Homo sapiens: one gene and its partner. The protein of the gene in region 2 interacts with the protein of the main gene of each other region in a pairwise test. Each region holds a gene or a part of one and is shown on either strand. Other genes may lie near its edges.

Evidence for each region. The genes of interacting proteins can lie anywhere in the genome.
Region 1: the proteins of NCK1 (region 2) and KDR interact in binary tests that used the Homo sapiens proteins (3 or more experiments, as listed by UniProt).

The regions. Positions count from the first base shown.
Region 1 is NC_000004.12:55,112,036-55,115,688, forward strand, and holds part of KDR (vascular endothelial growth factor receptor 2 precursor), read right to left. Parts: intron 3,377-3,653; coding exon 3,246-3,376; intron 3,008-3,245; coding exon 2,839-3,007; intron 2,231-2,838; coding exon 2,091-2,230; intron 1,447-2,090; coding exon 1,269-1,446; intron 1-1,268. UniProt on the Homo sapiens protein: Tyrosine-protein kinase that acts as a cell-surface receptor for VEGFA, VEGFC and VEGFD. Plays an essential role in the regulation of angiogenesis, vascular development, vascular permeability, and embryonic hematopoiesis.
Region 2 is NC_000003.12:136,865,128-136,868,780, reverse strand, and holds part of NCK1 (SH2/SH3 adapter protein NCK1), read right to left. Parts: intron 1-3,653. UniProt on the Homo sapiens protein: Adapter protein which associates with tyrosine-phosphorylated growth factor receptors, such as KDR and PDGFRB, or their cellular substrates. Maintains low levels of EIF2S1 phosphorylation by promoting its dephosphorylation by PP1.

The DNA.
Region 1 (3,653 bases), on a different chromosome or scaffold from region 2:
GATGCCACACAAATTACCATGTAAACTCAGACATTTATGTAAATGAAAGAGAATAAACAAAAAATTAAGGTGATTTTCTCAAGGCCAGTTCAATTTAATTCCAGTTCAATTACAGTTGACCCTTAAATAACACAAACTTGAACTACATGAGTCCACTTATAAGCAGATTTTCTTCCACCTCTGCCACCCCTGAGACAGCAAAACCACCCCCTCCTCTTCCCCCTTTTCCTCAGCCTACTCAACGTGAAGACAAGGATGAAGACCTTTATGATGATCCACTTACACTTAATGAATAGTAAATATATTTTCTCTTCCTTACAATTTTCTTAATAACATTTTCTTTTCTCTAGCTTTATTGGAAGAATACAGTATATAATACATATAACATATAAAATATGTGTTAATTGACTGTTTATGTTATCAGTAGGGCTTCCAGTCAACAGTAGGCCATTAGTTATGTTTTGTGGAAGTCAAAAGTTATACCTTGATTTTTTTTTTTTTTTTTTTTTTGAGAAGGAGTTTCACTCTTGTTGCCCAGGCTGGGGTACAATGGCACGATCTTGGCTCACTGCAACCTCCACCTCCTGGGTTCAAGCAATTCTCCTGCCTCAGCCTCCTGAGTAGCTGGGATTACAAGCTCCCACCACCACACCAGGCTAATTTTTTGGATTTTTAGTAGAGATGGGGTTCCACCATGTTGACCAGGCTGGTTTCGAACTCCTGATCTCAGGTGATCCACCCACCTCAGACTCCCAAAGTGTTGGGATTACAGGCGTGAGCCACCGCGCCCGGCCTATACATGGATTTTTGACTGCAGAGGAGGGAAAGTTAGGGGAACTCCCCTGAGTTCCCCCAATCCCTGAGTTGCTCACAGGTCAACTGTATATTGCTAAATGTTTCCCCAGTTTGCAAAGCTCATGCTTATTCAAGTAGGCCTCTCAGCCTTGCAATAAAATGAAAATTTAAAAACTACCTTAGCTAATACTATTTATCATAGTAACAATCCTAATAGCAGCAATAACTATAATAAGTAATACTAAATGAACTCTTACTGTATATCAGCACATCTCATCTTTAAAGTTGAGGTTTGAACCCAAGTTCCTGACTACAAAGCTATGCTCTTGACCTCTAGGTCATGTGGCCTCCCTAACAAGAAAAACTAGAAACTATCTTCTGAATGAACAAAATAGGAATCACTAAGTGACCTAAATTTATTTAAATTATCTCACTTGTCAAGGCACAGAATAATTTCCAAGACCATAGCTTACCATGGACCCTGACAAATGTGCTGTTCTTCTTGGTCATCAGCCCACTGGATGCTGCACAGGTGTACAATCCTTGGTCACTCCGGGTTACACCATCTATAGTTAAGGTGCTCAAAAATTTCTTCATCTCACTCCCAGACTGGGTTTTTAGGTCTCGGTTTACAAGTTTCTTATGCTGATGCTGAAAAAAAGAGTTGACTGAACTTCCAAAGCACAGCATATAACATTACCCAATAACTTCTAGTAACACACAGAATTAAATCTGGGCTTTGGTAAACATTATTTAATGCTAAAAACAGGGACACCAGAACTTTTAACCTCATGCAGACAACAAATATATTTTGTTTCAGGAGAAATAAATGGAACCAACTGAATTAGGATTTTTAAAACCTCACGTGGTGAAAGTGAGATGGATATAAACTGCAGAAACACAAGTAAATGTGACCACTGTTTAAGGAGCAGTGTATCTCATGCCACCTCTTAAAGAGAAATTCCCTTAAAAGGAATGTAGATCAAAAACTTTGGAGAACAGAGAAATGACATAATGTGGAAAGATGTAATCACCTAGAGAAAACTAATATTCATAGCCTGGCTATTGCAGAATAGGACAAAATTCCTGGTATTTCACCTTTTGGTGGGTGCTATCTGTTCTGCAATTCCCTTAAATTGTGTGTGTGTGTATGTGTGTGTGAGTGGGTGTGTATGTGTGTGTGTTTAAGGCTCTTACATTTTATCTGGCCAAAGAGGCCCCTATCTCTCAAGCAAACTTCACTGGGGCTTATTATCTAAGTATTTGGAGGTCTGGCTTTGAATCATTAGCGTTACCTTCGAAGAAGGGTATTCCCAGTTGAAGTCAATCCCCACATTTAGTTCAGTTCTTGCTGTACAATTTAAGACAAGCTTTTCTCCAACAGATAGTTCAATTCCATGAGACGGACTCAGAACCACATCATAAATCCTATACCCTAGAGCAAGTAAATTGAAAAAACAGAACATGAGAGAGCAAATAAGCCTATAACTTTGCACAGATTTATTTTTTAAAGTAATGCAACTTTAAAACATGCCACATTGTTTTTCCCTGCAGGCCTCACCAATACTTGGTAGCTCCCAGGAAAATGGCCAACAGAGGTTTACAAAGCACTACCTTCACAGATCTCAAAGATGTTGTAACCCAGTGGACAGAAAAGTAGTAAACTTTCAGTGGTCAGTAGCCCTAGGCCAGTAGGGCCAGCTTTAGCAAATTGCTGAAGTTTCCATAAAATAGTCATAATTGAAATAATTGATAGCAAGCAATGCTCTGAACATTGAATTCTTCATAAAATGTGCTCGAGTAATACCATTCGCTTTCATCCTTTTTTTAAAAAGTTTTCTTTTTCTTCCTTAATCTTGGCAAGAAAAGAGACAACCTCAATTGCACATGGGTTTATTTGGTAGAGAAGAGCAGATGAATTGCCCAACACCATATCCTGAGTTCCTATACTTTTCAATATCCTTCTTCACTCTATGTTGTTATCTCCAAGATCTTAATACAAGGATATGTTATTAATGATATGGAAAGGAAATGTCCTCTTACCTACAACGACAACTATGTACATAATAGACTGGTAACTTTCATCATTAATTTTTGCTTCACAGAAGACCATGCCAGCATAGCTGATCATGTAGCTGGGAATAGTAAAGCCCTTCTTGCTGTCCCAGGAAATTCTGTTACCATCAGGAACAAATCTCTTTTCTGGGTATCTCTGGGTAATAAAAAGACATATCAAATATTTAATCCAGTACCAAAAATGAGAGCCATGTACAATGATCACTGAAGAATTCATCTTATTTTTAAGAATACTAATTAGTTTTATTCATTGCATTTGACCCTTCCTAAAGGATCCTTAAAACTCATTGTGAATATTATAAACAGGTTACCCATCTTAATATTAGCTTAAAATTATAAAAACTTAAGAGACGATTGGAGGAGATGCAACTTACTGCACAAAGTGACACGTTGAGATTTGAAATGGACCCGAGACATGGAATCACCACAGTTTTGTTTTTGTTCTCAGTAATGTACACGACTCCATGTTGGTCACTAACAGAAGCAATAAATGGAGATCTGTAATCTAGAAGAAAATTTAGTTTTATTAATGAGTTAATAGTATTTACTAGAAAAGTTGGTCATTTTTCAGGTTCCTAAACTCTAACCAGACAAGTGAATGACTGGAAGGGACACCTCACACAACCAAAGGCATCCACAGATTATTCTGCTGATAGATATCTGTGCTACATGAGGGTGTGTGTGTATGTGTGTGTGTGTGTTTGTGCATGCACATGCATGTGTATATATCTGTGTGTATAAAAATTTTGAAAAAAAACTCCCAATTGAGATTGACTCCTTTC
Region 2 (3,653 bases):
CTCTAAATCATTACATTGTTCTGTATCCACATTCAAGGCCTCCAAAGATTAATTGGCATTATCAAGAGATTCGAAAAGACAAACTAAATTGCAGCAGTAAAACCTGTAAGAGATTCATTTTTTAGCAGATGATAGAATTCAATGGTAAACACTGGCCAGGTGCGGTGGCTCATCCCTGTAATCCCAGCACTTTGGGAGGCCAAAGCAGGCTGATTAACTGAAGTTAGGAGTTGGAGATCAGCCTGGCCAACATGGTGAAACCCTGTCTCTGCTAAAAATACAAAAATTAGCCAGGCATGGTGGCAGGCACCTGTAATTCCAGCTACTTAGGAGGCTGAGGCAGGAGAATCCCTTGAACCTGGGATGCAGAGGGTACAGTGATCCGAGATTGCCCCACTGCACTCCATCCTGAGTGACAGAGCAGGACTCCGTCTCAAGAAAAAAAAAACTCAATGGTAAACATGACAATATTATTTTTGTTAATGGTGTTAATACACCTAACAAGTATAGGGGAAAGAAACTGTATATAGACTTTATATCATTGTTTAAATAATTTACAATGTAAGGCTGGGCATGGTGGCTCATGCCTGTAATTCCAGAACTTTGGGAAGCCAAGGTGAGCGGATCACCTGAGGTCAGGAGTTTGAGACCAGCCTGGCCAACATGGTGAAACCCATCTCTACTAAAAATACAAAATTAGCCAGGTGTGGTGGCAGGTGCCTGTGATCCCAGCTCCTCAGGAGGCTGAGGCAAGAGAATTGCTTGAACCCGAGAGGCGGAGGTTGCAGTGAGCCGAGATCATGCTGCTGCACTCCAGCCAGGGCAAAAACTGCGAAACTCTGTCTCAAAAAAAAAAAAATTTACAATGTAAATATGAAGGTTCCCCTGCCCTGAAGTTTTCAATCTATGAGAAGGCATAAATACACAAAATGCAAAATAATGTGAGGCAAATAAGGCAAAATTACAAGAGATGAGAAGTAGTATGGTTTCATAAACACACAGAACTTGCGTCAGAAGATCAAGGGTTGAGTCTTTGTTCTGCCCCCATCACTAAATGTTTGAATTTTGGTGCATCTAGTCTATTTGTATTTCAGTTTCCTTATCTGTAAAACACAAGGTTGGATTCCAACATTCCAGCAATAATGCTCTATAATTCTATGATTCAAGTCCACACAACATTAAAAACCAAGGGAATACTAAAATAATAAGGGGTATGGGTTTAAAGGAAAGCAACAGACCAGGCACAGTGGCTCACCCCTATAATCCCAGCACGTTGAGAAGCCAAGGTGGGAGGATCGTTTGAGGCCAGGAATTCAAAACCAGTCTGAACAACACAGTGAGACCCTATCTCTACAAAAAAAAAAAAAAAAAAAAATTAGCCAGACATTGATGCACACCTGTAATCCTGGCCTTTGGGAGGTTCAAGTTACAATGAGGAGCTGTGATCAGGCCACTGTACTCCAGCCTGAGCAACAGAGCGAGATCCTGTCAAAAAAGAAAGAAGAAAGAAAGAAAGAGAGAGAGAGACAGACGGACGGACAGACGGATGGATGGACGGAAGGAAGGAAGGAAGGAAGGGAAAAGAAAGAAAAGAAAGAAAGAAGGAAGGAAGGAAGGAAGGAAGGAAGGAAGGAAGGAAGGAAGGAAGGAAAGAAAGAAACAAAGAAAGAAAGAAAGAAAGAAAGAAAGAAAGAAAGAAAGAAAGAAAGAAAGAAAGAAAGAAAGAAAGAAAAGCAAGCAACATAGGGAACAGGAAAAACATTTGGAAGACTGCACCAAAGGACCAAAAGCGAAAATTCAACAAATTTTACTTCATTTGCTACTTGGTAATTTAGGAGAAAAAAAAAATTTTAAAGACTAGGCAAACTGGACGGGCACAGTGGCTCACGCCTGTAATCCCAACACTTTGGGAAGCCGACGCATGTGGATCACCTGAGGTCGGGAGTTCAAGACCAGCCTGGCCAACATGGTGAAACCCCATCTCTACTAAAAATACAAAATTAGCCAGGCGTGGTGGCATGCACCTGTAATCCTAGCTACTCGGAAGACTGACACAGGAGAATCACTTGAACCAAGGAGACGGAGGTTGCAGTGAGCCAAGATGGTGCCACTGCACTCCAGCCTGGGTGACAGAGTGAGACGCCTCAAAGAAAAAAAAAAAGAAGAAAGAAAGAGGCCAGGCACAGTGGCTCACACCTGTAATCCCAGCACTTTGGCAGGCTGAGATGTGTAGATCACCTGAAGTGAGGAGTTTAAGACTGGCCTGACCAACACGGAGAAACCCCGTCTCTACTAAAAATACAAAATTAGCCAGGCATGGTGGCGCATGCCTGTAGTCCCAGCTACTAGGGAGGCTGAGGTAGGAGAATCGCTTGAACCCGGGAGGCAGAGGTTACGGGGAGCCGAGATCGCACCATTGCACTCCAGCCTGGGCAACAGAGCGAGACTCTGTCTCAAAAAAAAAAAAAGAAAGAAAGAAAGAAAAAGGAATGATACGAAGGTACAAAAATACAAAGAGTAAATAAGAATCAGAGATTGGTTTGGTTAGAGTGGACAGCTCCTATAAAGAAATAGTGCTGGCACTGATTAAAAAAAAAGAAAGAAATAGTGCTGGCCCCAGAAAAACAGGTTTGAGCAGACTGTTATTAGGCTATGAATTCTGAACTATACTCTGAAGATAACAGAGAGTTATCACTGGTTTCCGAAAAGTGAAGGATGTGTTTGAAGCATAATTCTAAGATTTAGGAAGACATACTAAGTAGAGAGAAAAATCAAGCAAAAAACCCAATTAAAGGCTAGTGAGTAGTTCAAAGATAAAAATGGCTGGCAAAAATCAGCCAATATTGTTACACGCATAGAGATAAAACCAAAGTTTGTGTCTGGGTAATTGAAAGCATGGTAATGTCACCAAAACAAAGTCAGCATATGGAATCAGTTTTGAAGGGAAGACTATAAATTCTATCTTCATTAGAGTTTAAGGTGAGGATCAGCCAGACATAAAGTTTCCTTAAATCTTTAAATGTCATATTTAGCCTTGTTGTCTTCCTAACATCACAGTATTTATAGAGAATTTGTTAACTGCTCAGTGATTTCAAAAGTTCCCTTCAATTTTACTTATTAATGAAATAATCATTTAATTTTCTAGTGCAGATAAAGAACATTTGGTATTTTTCTATATTATAAAGGTAAATTCTAAAAATTATTAAACCATGATTTTAAAAATGAACTGTATCTGTATTCATTAAGTCAAGTCTTCCTGACAAGTGATTTATAATAATCACATCAAATATACCTTCAGCTTTGAAAAACACATGGTGAAAAAGTAAAATAAGACAAAGTAAAAGTACAAAGCAATGAAAATGTAAAACTCTAGAAAATTTTTGAAAAATGAATATAGGCCAGCCACGGTGGCGCACACCTGTAATCTCAGCACTTTGGGAGGCGGAGGTGGGCAGATTGCTTGAGGTCAGGAGTTCGAGACCAGCCTTGCCAACATGGTGAAACTCCGTCTCTACTAAAAATACAGGCCGGGCGTGGTGGCTCATGCCTGTAATCCCAGCACTTTGGGAGGCCGAGGCAGGTGGATCACGAGGTCAGGAGTTCAAGACCAGCCTGGCCAAGATGGTGAAACCCTGCCTCTACTAAAAATACAA